Linked DNA regions of Homo sapiens: region 1 is linked to region 2. The links come from fine-mapping of genetic effects on gene expression. Tissue or cell type: whole blood. Region 2 holds a variant in brackets; the other region holds the start of a gene. All regions are shown on one strand. Distances are between the middles of the regions.

Evidence for each region. PIP is the estimated chance that this variant, and not a neighbour inherited with it, causes the effect.
Region 1: it holds the start of MCOLN3, and the variant in region 2 is fine-mapped to the expression of MCOLN3 in whole blood (TOPMed, PIP above 0.99).

What each region holds. Positions count from the first base shown.
Region 1 is chr1:85,044,000-85,055,150 of GRCh38, forward strand. MCOLN3 (mucolipin TRP cation channel 3) reads right to left here and starts at 4,501. Exons shown (of 13, transcript NM_018298.11): 1 at 4,397-4,501; 2 at 1,134-1,363. The coding sequence starts at 1,361. RefSeq lists silencers at 3,983-4,732, 4,763-4,902.
Region 2 is chr1:85,088,721-85,096,720 of GRCh38, forward strand. DNAI3 (dynein axonemal intermediate chain 3) reads left to right here. Exons shown (of 23, transcript NM_145172.5): 8 at 1,396-1,512; 9 at 4,738-4,928; 10 at 5,711-5,835; 11 at 7,211-7,300. Among named protein-coding and RNA genes, the nearest start is that of DNAI3, 30 kb to the left of the region's middle. The variant G/A (reference allele first, on the strand shown) is at 3,207.

The DNA.
Region 1 (11,151 bases), 43 kb before region 2:
CACCTCAGCATCCCAAAGTGCTGGAATTACAGGCATGAGCCACCCTGCCTGGCCAAGCCATGTGACTTTAAAAGAGCTCTACAAACATCAGTTTCCTCTTCTGTAAAATGAGCCAGTAAGAATGTTAGAATTAAATGAAATAATGTACTGGAACAGGGTAGTCACTAAATGTTTGTTTCCCTTGATACAACACCTAGCATTAGAAACAAGCAAGAATTCTACCAACTTCATATGATTGTAAAAATTGCCTTGGTTCCCTAACAATCATAAGTGTTTGTTCTCAATAAGCAGTTAAAATTAGTAATATCCTGTTTTTTTTAATCTCTCCTTCAATACCAATTGTTTATTTACTTAGGCATTTTTCACCAACTTAGGAAGAGTAAGTAATAATAAAAATAAACCTATCACATCTATTTTTCTCACTAAAATCTGCTTCTATTTTGCCCTTTGCTTTTAGCAAGAGATAATTTGACCAACAGGAAAACATATTTTCATAAGAATAAATCACAACCAGTATATATTAAGAATCACAAAATATGGTTCCCCCTTTCCCCCAAAAAAATATTAAAAGCAGCCAAGGAAATGTGATTTAAAAGCTCCCTTTGAACTAAAAAGAGGTCCTGTGTTTCACTAGCTCCTGCCACTCCTCTTCTGTTAGTTAACTTCACATTCTTCCATTGCATGGTTCTCATGATCACAGGGTTGTGAGAATCTAAGAATTTGCCTGTAGCAGGAACCCTTTAAGTTTCTGAAGAGAGAAATTCCCAGGAAACTAACTAGGAAGGAAAAGAAAGTCCTAATGTTGGACAACACTAGTTTCCATGGCTTATTTAGAAACCAGCTGAACCTCTTCATTGGAAGCCAAATATTAGTTTTCTTTTCCTGAAAATTAATTAGATTATGTGACTAAAATTATAACTTAGCGAACGATACAAGAAAAAAACTAAGAAAAAAGAAGACAAACTCTTTCACAAATGTTGAAGACAGAAGGGTCTAAGATTGTATGTTTTCTTATCTGTTACTCTTCAACATTTTGCATATAGTTAAAAGTTATTTAAAAAAAAAACCACTGTCCATAGTTATCTTTGTAATTAAAAGAGGCTTTCACCAAACTCATGATCTGAGATGCTTACCTGGATAGTCACCATTGCAATTTTTAGAATTTGTATGGCAAGTTTCCATGGTTTTCTACCTCGAGCCCAGAACTTCTCACAGGGATTCATGAAAAAAAATTTGAGTTTTCGCCTCATCTGGTCTTCTAATAGAAGCTCCTCAGATGGAGATGTTTGCTGGTTAAAATTGCAGCGATTTTCCTCTTCATGAGAGCTGCAGCTACTCACAACTACCTCAGGATCTGCCATCTCTAGAGGAAAAAAACAACAACAACAACAACCAACATTTCCATTTAGTGAGTAAAGACACAAGTCCATATTCTTTAATATTGCAAGGAGAAGCCCATACAGAAGTCCTGGTTTCAAATAAGCACCATTGCTCTAAACTGCATTTTAGATGTTTACAGAATCAGTTCCAATGTAGGACGTCACTTTTTTATTTGTTTTAATTACAAAGTGAATTTTCACCTAGTTCAAAGTTACCAAATTCAAGGGCTGCTCCCATTAGTAAAAGATTATATGTACATATATATAGGATGTATATGTTTTCTGCCTCACTCAGTATAGTTAGAGGATCAGAGACCTGAGGACCTGGGGGAAGGACTTCAGAGGGTAGGTGGGCCTTGAAGTTATATGAAAACTTTCATATATGTGGCTGTGGACACTTTTTCCTGGGAGGTAACTAAAACTTTCACAGATTATCAAAAAATGTTTAAAACCACCGAGTTAAAGATAGCAGGGTGTAGTGTAAAGAACAAGATTCAGTTTGGTTTCTAATCCTGGTTCCATGACTTGACGTTTCTGCAATCTCAGGGAAATCACTTAGCCCTTCTGAGCCTCAGTTTCCTCTCCAGCAAAATGGGAATAACTACACCTACCCTTCTATGATTGTAGCCAGAATTAAATAGTTATGAGTGTAGAGAGCATTAAATAAAACAGTAAACAAAGCCTTTGCATAGGGTCTAGCGCTAAGCAGACTCACCTACCTAACACCCACAGCAGACAGGGTGGCTTCCTAGAAAGCCAGTAAGGTTCTTAAGGGGCAGTATGAGCCTCAGGAAACATAACTGTTGTACAAAGGGGAAAATGGGCCCTCAATTTAAGCCTAATTCCCAGTCTGTGGCATCGCTTGTAATGACTTTTTATTGAAGGCCTTATATTTATAGCATATTTTCAAAGTACTTCATATCTATTTGGGGGGGGGGGCAGGTACGTTTGAAAAGGGTTGGGTCGGGCTGGTTTTATTGTCTTCAGAATCAGTTTTTTCAAAGTGACGGAGAAGTCACTCTAGAGACTGGGATGGATCTTGGATTTTCCCTCAGACTAAGATTGATATTATACTATGGAAACCTGTTCAAAGTAAAATACCCCAAACAATGAGTAGCGTCCTTCCATACGGAATAGAAAGGCAGGCTTTATTTGACATTTTAATAATAACTTGTACTCAGCAATGAAGAAGGAAAATTGTAACCTGCATTCATACAATATCTTACAAGTCACTGGTTAGATACCATGCTGCTTTCCAAGTCTAGAACCCCACTTTTGATTCCAATTCAAGCATTCTTAGGAAGCCCAACATCTCCGAACAATAGATACTGGCTATAAAGAATAGCATGGGGAAGGTTCTTAAACTCTTGTTAATGAAAAGATTAATAAGGATACTGCTGGATGAATAAACCATAAAACATATTTACTGTATGGCAAATGCAGTACCTTCAAAATGAAATAATTATTATATAACTCATTAAAGTGTGGCTCCTGTGTGCGTGTTAAAATGCCTGTCAAAGCATAAATGCAGTAATTCTTAGGTAAAGGCATAAAGGAAAGAAAAAGTTATTAATAAATTAGGATTTTCACTTAACAGTTTTACTTCCTTCAAAAAGGCAGGATATTTTAACCAGCATTTAAGGAGACTTTATCTATAGGACTTAAAACGCAGATGATTTCATGTTGACCAAAGCTCGCATATGAACACCAACATAATGATGAAGCTGTTAATAAGCATGTTGGTGAGTTGTATATTGACACTAAGCGCTTTCCACTTTGATACAGGGAAAATTAAATTTTAAACAAACTAGCCACACACCATGTACAGTAATCCACAGGAACAAAGAGAAAACAAGCCAACCAGCATATATTCAGCACATCACAACGAGTTGTCCCGGTAGACATTTCATTCACCAGGACCAGATGCTGACCTTGGAAAAGTCAGGTTTACCCAGTCTGAAAAGCCCTTCCGAGGGTGCACTTTTAAAAACTGCAAACTGTCGGGAACCCCAGCAGCTGAAGGAGGTATTCGCAGCCAGCCACCCTTGACATTCACCCGGAGCGCCGGCGCGGGAGGCAGGGTGGGCGAAGGACCCCATCAGGAGAGGCTACCCGACGAAGGGGCCATCCGGAGAGGCTACCGAAGTATCTATCAGGCATGCTCTTAGAAGGAGCAAACGGACACACACAGGTTACCTGTTCCTGGCGGGCAGAGGCTTGATTGGAGTAAGCTGTAGAAAATTGGAGAAAGCCCGGGAGTGTATAAATAGCAAAGGCCTCCCAGTTGGCGACAAAGTTATGCAACCTCGTTTTTTCAGAAGCGCTTTCCCACTTCACCAGACACAAAACTTTAGTCTCTCCAGTCTTCTTTTTTTTTCAAACAAACAAACAACAAGGGTTGACACTTTTGTTGGGTAGTGTGTGCGAGAAAGATCTGCAGGGTTGCAGCGATGTCCCAGAGCGGTCGCTGCCATCCCCGGGCACTGCCGTGGAGCTCAGACGGCCGCAGCCCGGCTGGCGGCTGCTTTCAGCCAGCGCAGCGACCCGGGCCTGAGCCCCCACTTCCAGCCGCCCCCACCTCTAACAGGGGGACAGTCCGCCTTGAAAGGGGCCAGCCGAGCCGCGTCAAGGCCATCTGGAGCCCCGGCCGGCATCCAAGCCTTCCAGCCCAGGGGCTCCGGGCGGGGGTGGCTTCCAGCCCTCTGAGCCCTGGCCACAGGTGGGCGGCGGCCTGGAGGGGGACCGAGGAGCAGAGCACCCCCACCCGCCCAGCCCCGGGCAGGCCCGGCAGGCGCGCTCCTCCACTGACCTGCGGGCGGCTTGGGGGCGGCGCGGAACAGCTGCATCTCGCGCCCAGCTCCAGCCCGCCTGCCCTCCATGGCGCCGACTGCCCGGCCCGGCCTTCCCGCGGCGTCCCCGACAGCTCGCTGCCTCCCGGCCTCCCCGGCCCTCCCTGTGCGCCGCGGGCGCCGTTCCCGCGACACCCGACGCCCCGGGGCAGCGCCCCGCGGGCTCACCTGGGGGACAGCGGGGAGCGGCCGCAGCTCCGGTGTCCGCGGCGAGGGCGCAGGGCGAGTCAGCGAGCGACTCCAGCAGCCTCGAGCCCCGCTCCGCCCAGAGTCAGACGGGAGGAGAGCGCCCCGTCCGCCGCCCGCGCATCCTCCCGCCCCCGCCGCTTTAACTCGTGACCCTACTCCCGGCTCGGGTTCCCGCCGCGCCCTGTCGGGGGCCGCTTTTCAGGAGCACAGGTGGGACGCAGGAGGCCGTCCGGAGGAAGCCGGCGTTGTGCCCGTTCCCTGCCACCCCCACCCTATCACTCCCTTCATTTTCTCCCTGAGCAACCCGCACCGCCCTGCTCGGGTTTGCCAGGTTTGCTCCGGAGCTGCCGCCGGCGCCGGGGGGCCACCCCCTCCTGGCCAAGGCCCCTCAGGTGGTTGCCGGGCTCCGCGGGTGCGGGATCTATAGCGCCTAGCTCCGGTGAGTGTGAGGCCCCGCTGCAGCCTCCCATTCTGATTTTTGCATACAAGGTGAAATCTTGAATGTCTTAGCGTTTCAAGCCTGAACCTTGTTCCCTCCCTGGGTCTTCTAGTTTCAGACAAGTGCTGTGAAATGAGTGGACAGTCGACTAGACTCTTCTGTAGATTGGCGGCTGGGGCAGAAAGAGCCCTGGGAAACTTTTCCAAGAAATGTAAATAGAAATACCTGAAGTAGACTTTGAACCGTAATCTTTTTCTTCATAAATTATCTGTAAATATTAAACCTAATACCCCTTATCAGGATTGGATCAGGAACTTTGGTTAATTTTAATTATAATTACTTTGGATGTGTTCTGATTTTTAATTTTTACTTATTTTTTTTTTTTGGCCACGGGTAAATTTGTAAAGGTCACTGAATTTCCCTACTAGGGTATTCCTGAAATTAGATCGATACCTAGCAAACCTTTTATAAAACCTGTTTTCAAATCCTAAACCAGTATGCATGGATTACTAATAAATTTTTGCAACAGGGTACAAGAATTTTATGCTGTTCCTCAACCTGGATCCCACATACTGTGAACAAGGTAGATACCCAGAAAGGATATAATTGGCACAGTCAATTCTCAAGTGCAATTTGGAAAATATAATGTAATCTTTAATCCCCATATGCCTACACACGATGTAACGCTATCTCCTTACTTGATGGTAAGAGTTTGAAATGCTTGATTGTTCAGGAACAATCTGAACTTTGAAGAGGTTCACAGTCATAAATGATGGCACTTGCTTAACCCTCGTTTTAGCTGAGTTATAAGGACCGGTGAATAGATAAAGCCAGGTTTTGGAGTCAGACAGATGAGGGCCCAAATTCCCTTCTGTGCCACTTATTGGTCTCTAGGGAGTTACTTACCTTCTCTGAACCCCTTTTCTTTTTTATGTGCAATCTGTGAAGTTAGCCGAGAGAAAGGACGAGAGAGAGAGAGAGAGAGGGAGAGAGAGACCGAGAGAGACCGAGACCCAAGTTCAGGCAAGCCTTTATTCAACCTGCCGGCTGCTCCATTACAGACAGAGGAGGCAGCCCTGAGCTTACAAAATGAGGGTTTTATGTGGGGGAGAGAGACCCTGGAGTTGTTTGTTGGTTAACTCTGCCACATATCACCTTGTGACGTTTATGGTACCGGAGGGTGTAGGTAAAGTTTGTTTATACTTCCCACGACCTCCCACTGTGCAGTCCGGATGGTTTGTAATTGGGTTTGCTTTATAGCAGCAAGACCTGATAGGTAAAAGTCTCCTGGCTTCACCGCGGTGCCTAGATAGGGGCTTAGAAATGTAAAAAGGTTTGGGGGAAGAGGAGGGGTGGTACGGAGAGGTTTGCGGGGGTGGGGGGCGGGGGTGTTGGCAGTACCAAGAAGCTTTTTTGGGGTAGCTTGTCCCTAACACAATCTAGCTAATAAAAGGAATGGTGATTTTTAATTAATATGATACATGTAAAGCACCCATTACTATATGAGGCATATGTGATGTGCTTATAAATGCTGATTCCCCCTTTTATTTGGAAAACTTAATGAAAATATCAACCATGTTCATAAATTACAAGACTCAGTATTATTAAGATGTCAGTTTTCACCAAGTTCATTTATAGATTCAACCCAATCTCAATGAAAATTCTAGCAAACTGTTTTGTAGAAATTGACAACCTGATTCTAAAATTCCTATGGAAGCAAATGCAAAGAATCCAGAATAACCAAAGCAATTTTTTAAAAGAAAGATAAAACTGGAGGATTTATCCTACCTATATCTATAAAGCTATTTAAGCTAAACAACTTGGTACTGGTGAAGACAGACATATAGACTACACATAGGCAATGGAACAAAATAGAATCCAGAAATAGATTCACACATATATGGTCAATTGATTTCTGACAAAGATGTTAAAACAATGTAAAGGGGAATATTAAACCTTAACAATCAACATAATGATGTTACTGGCTTAAAGGAATATATTGAAACCAAATCAAAAGAAAGACAGGAAACGCTGACATCAAAGGTTTACATAAACATTCCTGGAAAGCAAGAGAGGAGTGCATAAAAGAGAAGCGGTAAAGATCTTATCAGTCAATCTTGCTTTTAACTTTTACAATGTTATAAGTTTGTGTTTCTGGACTTGTCAGTGAGTCATTCTTGTAAATAAACATCAATACATTTATAGTCATAGAATACATTTGTTTTTGTTTTTGTTTTTTGAAACAGGGTCTAGCTCTATTGCCCAGGCTGGAGTACAGTTGCTCGATCTCAGCTCACTGCAACCTCTGCGTCCCGGGCTCAAGTGATTCTCCTGCCTCAGCCTCCCGAGTAGCTGGGATTACAGGCACATGCCACCATGCCCACCTAATTTTTGTATTTTTAGTAGAGATGCAGTTTCACCATGTTGGCCAGGCTGGTCTTGAACTCCTGACCTTAGGTGATCCACCCACGTCGGCCTCCCGAAGTGCTGGGATTATAGGCATGAGCCACCCCACCTGGCCTCAACATATGTTTCTATGTAATGCTTTTGTTGTTGCTAGAATATCCAAATGGTATCTTACTATTATAACACATTTTGGTGGACGACTGACTACGTATACAACACTTCTCATAAGATTATAACAGAGTTGAAAAACTCCTATCACCTAGTGATGTAATAATGTCACCGCAATAACGTTGTAGAGCAATGCGTTATCCACCTATTTGTGGGGATGCTGGTGTAAATAAACTACTACTGCACTGCCAGTCTATAAAAGTGTAGAACATACAGTTATGTGCAGTACATAATACTTGACAATGATAATAAGCAACCATGTGATTGGCTTACATATTTACTATACTATTATCATTATTTTAGAGTATACTTCTGCTTGAAAAAAAAAAGCCAGCTGTCAAATAGCCTCAGGATGATTTCCAGAAGAAGATTGTGTTATCATAGGAGATGACACTTCCATGCCTGTTATTACCCCTGGACATCTTCCAGTGAGATAAGATGTGGAGGTAGAAGACAGTGATATTGTTAATCCTGACCTTGTGTAAGCCTATGCTAATGTCTGTGTTTTTGTCTTAGTTTTTAACAAAAAAAAGTTTTAAAACATTGAAAAATAGAAAGAAGCTTGTAGAATAAGGATATAAATAAAATATTTTTGTATAGCTGTACAATATGTTTGTGTTTTAAGCTGTGTTATTACAAAAGAAAGTTTACTCATTTTAAAAGTTTGGCCAGGCACGGTGGCTCACGCCTGTAATCCCAGCACTTTGGGAGGCCAAGGTGGGTGGATCACAAGGTCAGGAGTTCAAGACCAGCCTGGCCAATATGGCGAAACCCTGTCTCTACTAAAAATACAAAAATTAGCCGGGCTTGGTGGTGGGTGCCTGTAGTTCCAGCTACTCTGGAGGCTGAGGCAGGAGAATCACTTGAACCCAGGAGGCGGAGGTTGCAGTGAGCCAAGATTGCACCACTGTACTCCAACCTGGGTGACAGAGGGAGACTCCGTCTCAAACAAAAATAAAATAAAAATAAAATAAATAAAAGTTCATACCATTTCCATTGTGCAATGAAAAATAAATAAATGAATAAATAATTTAAAATTTTAGGCCAGGAGAGGTGGCTTATCCCTGTTTATCCCAGCACTTGAGAGGCCAAGGTGGGAGGCCTGCTTGAGTCCAGGAGATCGAGACCAGCCTGAGCAACATTGGGAGACCCCATCTCTACAAAAATTTTTAAAAATATCCAAGGATGATGGCATGTGCCTGTAGTCCCAGCTACTCTGGAGGCTGAGGTGGGAGAATCACTGTGTCCAGGAGGTCGAGGCTGCAGTGAGCCATGATTGTGCCACTGCACTCTAGCCTGGGCGACAGAGCAAGACCCTGTCTCAAAAATAAAAAGTTTATAAAGTAAAAAACTTACAGTAAGCTAACATTAATTTATTATTAAAGGAAGAAAAATGTTTAAAATAAATTTAGTGTAGTCTAAGTGTACATGTTTATAATTTATGGTAGTGTACAGTAATGACCTAGGCCTTCACGTTCACTCACTGCTTACCTACTGACTCACCCAGAGCAACTTCCACTCCTGCAAGCTTCATTCATGGTAAGTCTCCTATACAGGTGTACCATTTTTAATCTTTTTTTTTTTTTTTTTGAGACAGAGTCTCGCTCTGTTGCCCACGCTGGAGTGCAGTGGCACGATCTCAGCTCTGCAAGCTCCGCCTCCCAGGTTCACGCCATTCTCCTGCCTCAGCCTCCCAAGTAGCTGGGATTACAGCCACCTGCCACCACGCCTGGCTAATTTTTTGTATTTTTAGTAGAGACGGGGTTTCACCGTGTTAGCCAGGATGGTCTTGATCTCCTGACCTTGTGATCCACCCGTCTCAGCCTCCCAAAGTGCTGGGATTACAGGCGTGAGCCACCGCGCCCGGCCCCCATTTTTAATCTTTTATATCATATTTTGACTGTACCTTTTCTATATTTAGATATGTTTACATACACAAATACTAAACACTGTGTTCCAGATGCCTACAGTATTCAGTAAGGTAGCATGCTGTACAGGTTTGTAGCCTGGGAATAATAGGCTACGCTATATAGCCTCGGTGTATAGAAAGCTATCCCATCTACGTTTGTGTAAGTACACTCTATGATGTTCATACAACGACAAAATTACCTAACAATGCACTTGTTACGACATATCCCCATCATTAAGCTATGCATAACTGTATTTGAATACCCAATCTTGTTTTCTGCATTTTCCATAGTTTGAATATTCACTGAAGGGTTTAGTTCTTTGTAAAACAAAATATTTTTTTTGTTAAAAAAGTAAACGAGCTTATATAAAGCAACAGATACCCCAACGTCCAATCTGATAATACTTTGGAAGCACGTTTAACAAGTGAACTGACATGAAGTGCAAAATGAGAGAAATTTTCTCTCATCTGGAATATCTGTCACAAAGCAAAGATGAAATCTATCAGATAAGGAAATTGTTTTATGTGTTTTAAATTGTCACTTGAAGAATTATTTTTTAATTAAAATTTAGAATTTTTTATTTAGAATTTATTTTGCATTGATGCTTCCTTCCTTTAATGATTTTTACTATGAAATATCTATGACAGGTAGTGATCATTATCATATATAATCAAATATATACTGTTCTTCAGTATGTTGGCTGATAATAATAATCATGCTTTTATTATCTTTTTTAAACCAAAATAAACCTCTGAAACTTTTAGTATAATCCTAGCACAGAAAAGATTCAGTTTATTGTTATGGTTACTCATTATGTTTTTAAAACATGTAAAGTGTTATGAAAACTACAAAATAACTTATGATTTCAAGAATTCCAATTTTTTGCTCCTGAATCTCAAGCCAATAGATCTCTATGACATTCTTCATATCTGCTGGGTGAAAGGGAGCTTTTTTCACTCCTTATCTTCGCATTCAAAATTCCTATCTGTTTTAGAATAACAGCTCAGCTGAAAATGTCAGGTAGCCTGGGTATTAAATCACACATTTGTAAACCCAAAATACTTTTTACGTTTCTGTCTTCTTACATCCGTACCATTCATCTTTCTCCCCTTAATTTCTTCTTTTTCTCTCAACAAAATTTTTATTTATTTAACACATACATATTTAGCGAGTATTTATTGAGGACTCCTATTTTTCAGTAATGGTATTAGATACTGCCAATGAAAATATTAATAAAATATAGTTGCTGTTCTTAAGGATCTTACAGTCTAGAAGATGATTTTTTAATTTTGAGAAAATTTCAAATACAGAAAAGTACAAAAATAACAATACATTAATGCCATTCAATACCCACAACCCCCCAAATTGAACAAATTTTATATTTTCTTTTGTTTTTGGCCTTCCTAATTTATGAGGAATAAAGCATTATAAAGTTAACCAACTGATACGGTTTGGCTGTGTCTCCACCCAGATCTCATCTTGAATTGTAATCCCCATAATCCCCACATGTCAACGGAGAGACCCTGTGGGAGGTGATTGGACCATGTGGGCGGTTTCCCCCAGGCTGTTCTCATGATAGTGAGTGAGTTCTCAGGAGATCTGATGTTTTTATAAGTTTTTGACAGTTCCTCCTTCACACACTCACACTCTCCTGCCGCCTTGTGAAGAAGATGCCTGCTTCTTCTGCCATGATTATAAGTTTCCTGAGGCCTCCCCAGCTATGTGAAACTGTGAGTCAATTAAACTTACTTTGTTTATAAATTACCCAGTCTCAGGTAGTATCTTTGTAGCAGTGTGAGAATGGACTAATA
Region 2 (8,000 bases):
GAAGCAATAATGAATGGTTTTGCTGAAAAACAACAAAACAAATCATATTTCGAAAGTAAGAGTGACTCTTAGGCATGTTGCTACTTTGATAAAACCACCAAGCAATATATCATTTTGTTTTTTTTTTACTTAACCCTGTCTAGAGAGCAGAAATTAAAAGGTGAAGCTGAGAATTGAACCCAAGTCTCTCTGGTTCCAATACTAATATTATTTCTTTCTACCACTCTGCCTTCTGCTATGGATACTGACCTAAACAAGGAAAAAAAATGAATTATTCTAAAAACTCCCTTTACCCCTTTGTCTGATTACTCTCCATTTAATATATTACCTCTCACAGAGACATTCTGCATTGTGCTGACATTTGTTCAACAAACACAAATACTACATAATATTTTGTTGATCATTTAAAATGTGCTAGGCACTGTTTTTAAAGTTTTGCATGTATCAACACATTCAATCCTTACAATGACACTATGAACTAGCTACTTGAATAATTTCATTTAGAGATGAGAACACAGGCACAGAAGGTTAGATAATTGGCTCAGGGGTCATATAGCTAGTAAATGATAGAACCAGGCTTCAAAGCCAGGCAGCCAATCACCAGAATCCACACTCTTAATGATTGTGCCCTGTGACTTTTCCAAGCTCTACATGCCAAGATCAAGGGCTCACCCAGTCTAATACTTGAGATTGATAAAGCCCAGAGGTACAATGCCATATGAGGTGTTCACATACAGAGGCCACTAAGAGCATACTAGATGGAGCAAGACTTCCTGCCACCATCACTGCTGAAATGTATCTTATTCCTAGTTTTGTATGTTTAGAGCAGAGTTTCTCAACTTCAACAAATTGACATTTGGGGCTGGATAATTCTCTTTGAGGGAAGGCTGTCTTGTGCTTTGTAGGGTTTTTAACAGCATCCCTGGGATCTATTCACTAGACACCAGTAGCATGTCTAGGTTGTGACAACCAAAAATGTTTCTAGACATTGCCAAATGTCCCATGAGGGGGTGAGGTGGACACTGACTTAGTGAAATGAAGAGAGAGAGAAAACAATAAAGATGGCAAAATGTTAATAATTGACGAATCTGGGTGAAGGGTGTGTGGGAATTCCTTATACCCTTCTTATAACTTTTCTATAAGTTTGAAATGATTTCTAGGTAAAAATTTTACAAAAATAAGATTTTTTTGATTATGTTGGAGAGAAATTCATGTAGCCTTTGAATAGTGGTCAATATCAGTTGTCTAGGATAAAGAAAATTCAATGTATATAATTTAAATATAAAATAATATCCTAACATCATTGTCACAGAGACACACTTTTGACCTGTTGTGGCCCATATTTGCTCTTCTTTGACCTAATCTTTAGTATTGAATTTTCTTTTAATATATTAGGACATATCCTAAAAATGCTACTACGCAATATTATCCAAGAGAATTCTCAGAAGAGGAAAAAGAGACACTCAAACAATCAAAGCCTTTGGTTGATTTTCTTAACAATGCATCCATAAGGTAAAAAATTGCATATTAAATTTTAAAAATAAAACATAAAATGTATATGTTTACATAGAATAACAGGTCTAAATAAACAATTCCATATAGGGTATCTAGATAAAAAGTATGAAGACAGTTGTCAGTGTGACACATTCTACAGATTCTCAATATTTATTTCCTTTCTATTGCTAAGCAACATCTTAGCCCTATCAAGCTAAGGCCACATCAAACTGTGTGAGGAGTTGAGTGTGTGAGGATGTTTTCCTAATTGCAGATTAACATTTACTTGTATTTACCATGGTTACTTTTACGTAATTCTTTTTCTCCACTCCTCACTCCTCTTCCTCATTAACTTTTTATAGGATGAGGAGAATGCTGTGGCCATTATTATGATGATAAGTATTTGCAAAAATATCTTTGTAGATGAGAACCTGAATTTAATTCAAATGTCTTTTTGGACATTTCACTCTTATCACCAATTCCTGTGTTCCTGCACTCTTACTGGCTTTGAAAGAGAAGCATCTTCAAAATGCCCCCTAAGCTGTTAGTAGGACCCTGGGTAGAGTTCTGGGGCTTCTAAACCAGAGAAACAGCTTGACAAGTTCTCACCAAGCTGATACTAGAGTTTAGAGAAGTGGATCCACTGGAGGACAAGTCTGCCAGTTATACTCAATAGGCTGGTTTCTATTTCTTTCTAAAATTAAAAACTTGGTGGTCAAGTTCATATATAGCCCAAGTTAAACTTTTTTATTTTTAAGAAATGTCGTTGGTTCTTTCATACTGGATTAAATATCCTAAAAATTCCAACAACTCTCAAACTTGTTACTTATGCCTAGGGAGACTCTGGCTCAAAAATTCAGTTAATGATTCAGAGAGAACATTATTTGCCACTCGCAGGAAGGATGCTATAATTTTTGCTATACGGGCAATGAGATAGAAACAAGAAAACCTGAGTTTCACCCTCCCCTTATCAAAATTTAGTAGTCATTACAATTTTTCCTGTAAGAATATTCAAAATGAGAAGTTTGTTTACATATAATCAATATCCAGAGAAAACTAGATCTTGAGGGAATAAAAAAATGTTCAAAATAAATCCACATTGTATATTATCTTTAGACCTGGGCTTTTATTCTTCCCTCTGAATTTCCATGCTTATAAAGAAAAGAATAGTGGACAGCTTTATGATTCCATCCCTGAGATGTGGGAAGGAGAAGCCAGATCTATAAGAAGAAAGAGGAAAATTGGCACAGGAATTATAATAGCACTGGCCCAGAGTGGATAAGAAACCCATGTTTATATCACTGCAAACATAACTTCCAGCTTTAAAACTGCTTAAGCTTTATTCAATAGTTTTTAATTAAGGTAAGCCTGATTTTGTTCTGGAAGAAAGCCCTTTTAGAAATGGGAAATTTCTTTCTCATAGAATTTTATCTAAAACAAACTTAAGGGAAGCATTATTTGCAAAAGAAGGCAATGACATGAGATGAGAGAGAGGAACTTCAGGGGGATTCACAAAACAACTAAGAAACCTTCCTTTCGGGGTTAAAATTCCTAGACAACAGTTTTGCTAGCCTCCAATTTGTTACTCTCGGGAGCTACATGGTTCCAGGAAAGCAAGAAACCGGAAACCAGAAGAAAGATGTGTTTTCACTTCTTCCGTTTGAATTACTTCCCCGTTCTGGCTAAGGAGGTAGAATCAGGAAACCAGAGCG[G/A]AAGCCACGTCTTTAACTTTTCTCTTGAGAATTCCCTTCTCATTTGGGCTTAACCAGAAAGAAATATGATTTGGAAAATGCTTACTAATGCTTCTACTGGAAACTGTTTAAGCCTCGAGAGTCCGCTACACAGGGTTATTCAATGTTCAGTGTGCTTATGAATCACCTGAGGACTCTTGTTAAAATGCAGGTTCTGACTCAGTAAGTCGGGTGGAGCCTGCGACTCTGCATTTCTAACAGCCCCAGGTCATGTTGGTGGTCACTGGATCACACTTTAAGTGGCCAGGTCTTAGGAAAGGGGTCTATTTTGAAAGATGAAATACAAGAAGAATTTAACCAAGGGAGGACTCAATTAGGCAATGACTGGTAGTGTAATGATCAATGACAGGGGTATCAAACGGTGCCCTTTTTTATATTTTAGGAGTATCTGTTTTTACTGTTTATATTGAACTATCTAAAGGATTTTTTCTTATTTTAAGAAATTCACAATTGAGAACCACTTTTTCAACTTACCACACCTATATAAAACCAAGAAGTTTACAGTTTTGATCAGTAGGGTAAAACCTTGGGTGGCATTCTAATTGTGGGAGGGCTCTTAGCAACTTTGGGAGTATGCAGAGCTTTCAGATCTAAGCATAAAAAGGGACAATAACTATCATAGTAACTACTTTAAGACAGGAGCCTGTCAAACCAAGGTCCCTAGACTATTAGCAAATGATCCTAGCACTCAGATGGTATCTTAAAGGAGCAATGTTAGTATTTTTAGCAGGATAATTTTTCATTTTGGGGACTGTCTCATGCATTGCAGGAGGTTTGGTAATGGAATTAAACACAGTAGCACCTCCCAGGCATTGTGACAACTAAAACTACACACACACACACACACACACACACACACACACACACACACTTCTAAACTCCAATTCTTCCCTTGTTCAGAATCTCTTATTTGTTGTTTTGAATTACATATGTATTGGGGCTATCCTGTTAAGGATAAGTGATCATTTAGTACAGAATATGCCTAAGAAAACTGCCATTTGTGACAGTTGGGGCTTTCCAGGAAGCAAATGACATCAAGTTAGAGGCAGACGTTTACTGAGGATTACACTGTGAAAAATAAAGGAGGAGGAGACAGGACCGGGAAGGTAGAGCATCAGACAAATTCTCAGCCTACTCAGCAGGAGCTCCAGAGCAAAGATGCCTGCTGTGGGAGTGCTGCACAAGGAGGACTGGCCAGGCCCAGCCATCCCTGCAGCTGCATGCTCAGGCATTGGCCTGGAGAGAGTACAGCCTTGGCTTGGAAACTGAGGCAGATCATGAAGTTGCTCGAGGTTCTGAGTAACATGCCACCATGATGTTTTTTTCTCTTAAGTCATTTATTTCACATGAGGTTAATCATTATCACCAAATATAATTGAGAATTATTATTTTTTGTTCAGTATAAATGAAGGAGGAGGAGTTGCTAAGATAGTCACATTATTGGATACTAAAAACCAATATCTTAATTGCTTTTTTTATTTTTACAAATTAGTGTTGAAATAGCCCTGCAGCAAAATGAAATCATGAACACATTTATTGATGACTGGAAATACCTCGCAGAAGAAGAAGGCACCTTTGGGGACAAGACCGATACCCACCTGAAAGAGTACCAGTCCTTTACCGACCTTCATAGCCCAACGGAGAAAATGATTACCTGTGTCTCATGGCATCCAACTATCTATGGTGAGATGGAAATGATGGGGATTCCCTTTTGTGATAACATTGAAATTGTCTGTTGCTTTCATATGTAAAATTGCAAACTAGTTCAATGTCAATAAGACACCTTCCATTTGCTCTGTACTCACTAGGTACCTGCCATGTGCTTTCCACGCCCTCACTGTCATGTGTCCTCCCAACAACCCTGTAGGATACACACCTGTCATTATCTCTGTTTCACAACAAAAGGACCCAAGCTCAACTCAGGGAAGTGACTCGCCCAGGTCACCCAGATGGCATAAGGCAGAGTCTGGGTTGGGCTTGGGCCTGTTGCTCTCCCAAGGCTAAATTTCTTCCTCCTAACACTGCCTTTCTGATTACTAGACAAGAGAGGAAATGTGCCTCCTTTAAAGAGCTCAGCAGCCAAGGGAGGTAGGTAGGGATGTGCAAAGATGGAAACATGGAAAGAGAGAGGTATTTGTCCTCTTTCTTCCTCCTTTCACCCTACACTGGCCCTTTTCTCACAAAAAAGAAACAAAACAAGATTTTCTTTTCTTCCAAAATCTTCTGAGTCCCCTGTATATTTTATACTAACAGTACATGTCAGTTTGGACCAGCCAGATTTCAAGTGCTAAATAAGTAGCATGTAACTAGTGGCAACCACATTAGCCAGCAGAGCTCTAAGAAAACTCTTGCTCTCCTGTGGACAAAGTGTAAATGAAGAGTGGCTGTGTAGAAAAGCAAAAGCTAGAGACATCTCTCCATGTATAGTTGCTGCCAACTTTAATTTCTACATGTGTTTCCATCAGGGCTAATAGCTGTGTCGGTAGCCGTGCGACTTTCTTTTGAAGACAGAGTTCACTTTTCTGGTAAATTATTGCTGCAGCCATCACTGATTCTTTTCTGGAGCTTCTCTGATCCTATACATCCTCAGGTAATTAGGGAGAGTTGCCTACATAGCCTAAATTTTCAAATACTACTTTCATGTATACCTTTAGCAGTTTTTATTGCAAAGTACTTTATAATCATGTAATGTTGTAAACATTTATAAAGTTAGGCTTTCTTCAATGCAGAACTTGTCATCATTCAATTTGAGCAAAACTAAAGTTTACAATTTGTTTATTGAACAAATCAACATGCTATTTTTTTCAAAGATTGTAAGAGGAATGTTTAAACTATTTTTAAAACAAACTCTTTTATGGACTTTACTTGAATACTAATTGGTCAAATGCAAATAGATTTTAGTTTCACATGAGTTTCCTCAATTCCAAGGATCACTGGGTAATAAATAAAGGTGAATGTGTGGGAGAGCACTGGGGAGTGGTAGGGACTGCGGCCTTGGAGAGTGCATTATCCATCTCTAGGCTGGCTGCCCTCTTGTTGCCAGGTGGTCCCATTGTCAAGAGAATTGAGAAATTTGGAATTTTGTATGAAATCGCCCAATTTTAAATAGCTCAACTAAAACCAAGCCAAAACACACAAAAACCCCACTCAAACCAACCAAAACACATAGCAATTCAAATAAAATGAGGCTGAAGGCTGGGTTTGCTACACAGGGTTCTAGTTTTCATGGTCTGCTCAATAAGAGATCTGCCTAGTGGGTGGGTGGTGTATAGTGTTAGATTAAGTTATTTCAATGTTTTAAATATAATAATATTTTGTTTCTAAAAAGTATTCATAATTAAGACTTTCCCTAAAAAACCCTAGCCTCCCCTTCTTCCTTTCCCCAATTCATTTGAATTAAGGTAGTTTTACTGTAATAGATTCTAGATACTTTAATGATTATAGACCCAGAGATCAAATTGAAAGATCTCTAGCCCTTTCTTGTCAGCCACAAAAACAGAGCCACTCTCTCACTAGAGTTTTCTAACCTTTCTACCCTGTAGATCTCCTCTCCACTCCAGGAGTGCCTGGCTCAGTATTCAGCAAGCAACAAAACAGACACAGATCCTGTCCTCACAGAGCTTCCCTTCCATGGTTTTCAGGAACACTAATTTCATAGTCTTTTTGTTATAAACATTGTAACATGCTCCCAAAATAACTACAATTTGTTTCCACTGAGGGGTGGGTTGGGGAATACCTGGGTCCCCTTGAGAACATACTCACTGTCACTCGTATGGCCAATGTGCACAATAAAATTAAGCAAAAGCAGCTTTTAGTCCAGAGGCAGAACTCTGAGAATAGACTCTCTACGCACCTTGCTTATAGATAGCTATAAAATTAGACTTTTAACTGTCTTAATATTATTTTCTCGCCATGATCTTAATCTCTTTTCTCATTCTTTCATGAATTTGCTGGGTTTACTTTAGTTAATGCTGGAGAGCCCAGATGACATCTTCTGCTTCAAGTTCTGTCCGAGTGATCCTAATATCATTGCTGGAGGCTGTATCAATGGGCAGGTACTTAACAGAATTTTTTTCAGCTATGTATTAATGTAGACAACCTTTGGTAATAAGTTTTGACTTGGCAGTTCCTTGGACTTAAGGATTCAATTCAGCAGAAGGAAGGCATGCCAATTGTGTGCCAGACACCACACCAGGAAGCAGGGTATAGAGACGTGTTACACACGGTATCAGCTCCTGAGGTGTTCACGGGGTAACCCAGCTTCAAAACTGAAACAGAATTGGGTGAAATCTATTTGTGTTGCTGGGACTGAACCACATATTGTATAAGATTCCATGGAAGAACAAAAGCTACAAGCATTACTACCTCTTGGAAAAAAAGGCCTCTTCTGAAATTTCCTTGGGAGTAGGAGTTAGGGGATGATCCAGAACTTAAACAGAAATTCACTAGAAAGCATACACACATCACTGAATTTATAGGCAGATATATGTGTGTATATATATATATAGATAGATTATATATATATATAAAGATTATATATAAAGATTATATATAAAGATTATATATATATATATGTATCTCAATACCGTTTGCTTTTATCTTCTTTTTAAGTTATCTAATATCAAATTTAGATCCTATCCTCCAATATCCTGTTTCTCTAGTGAAGCAAAACAATCATAAAGCTGTTTTATGGTCAAGGTTTAAATTCATTGTGATTCAGTGGGTTTGACCATCAAAAGGGTATATGATTTTTGT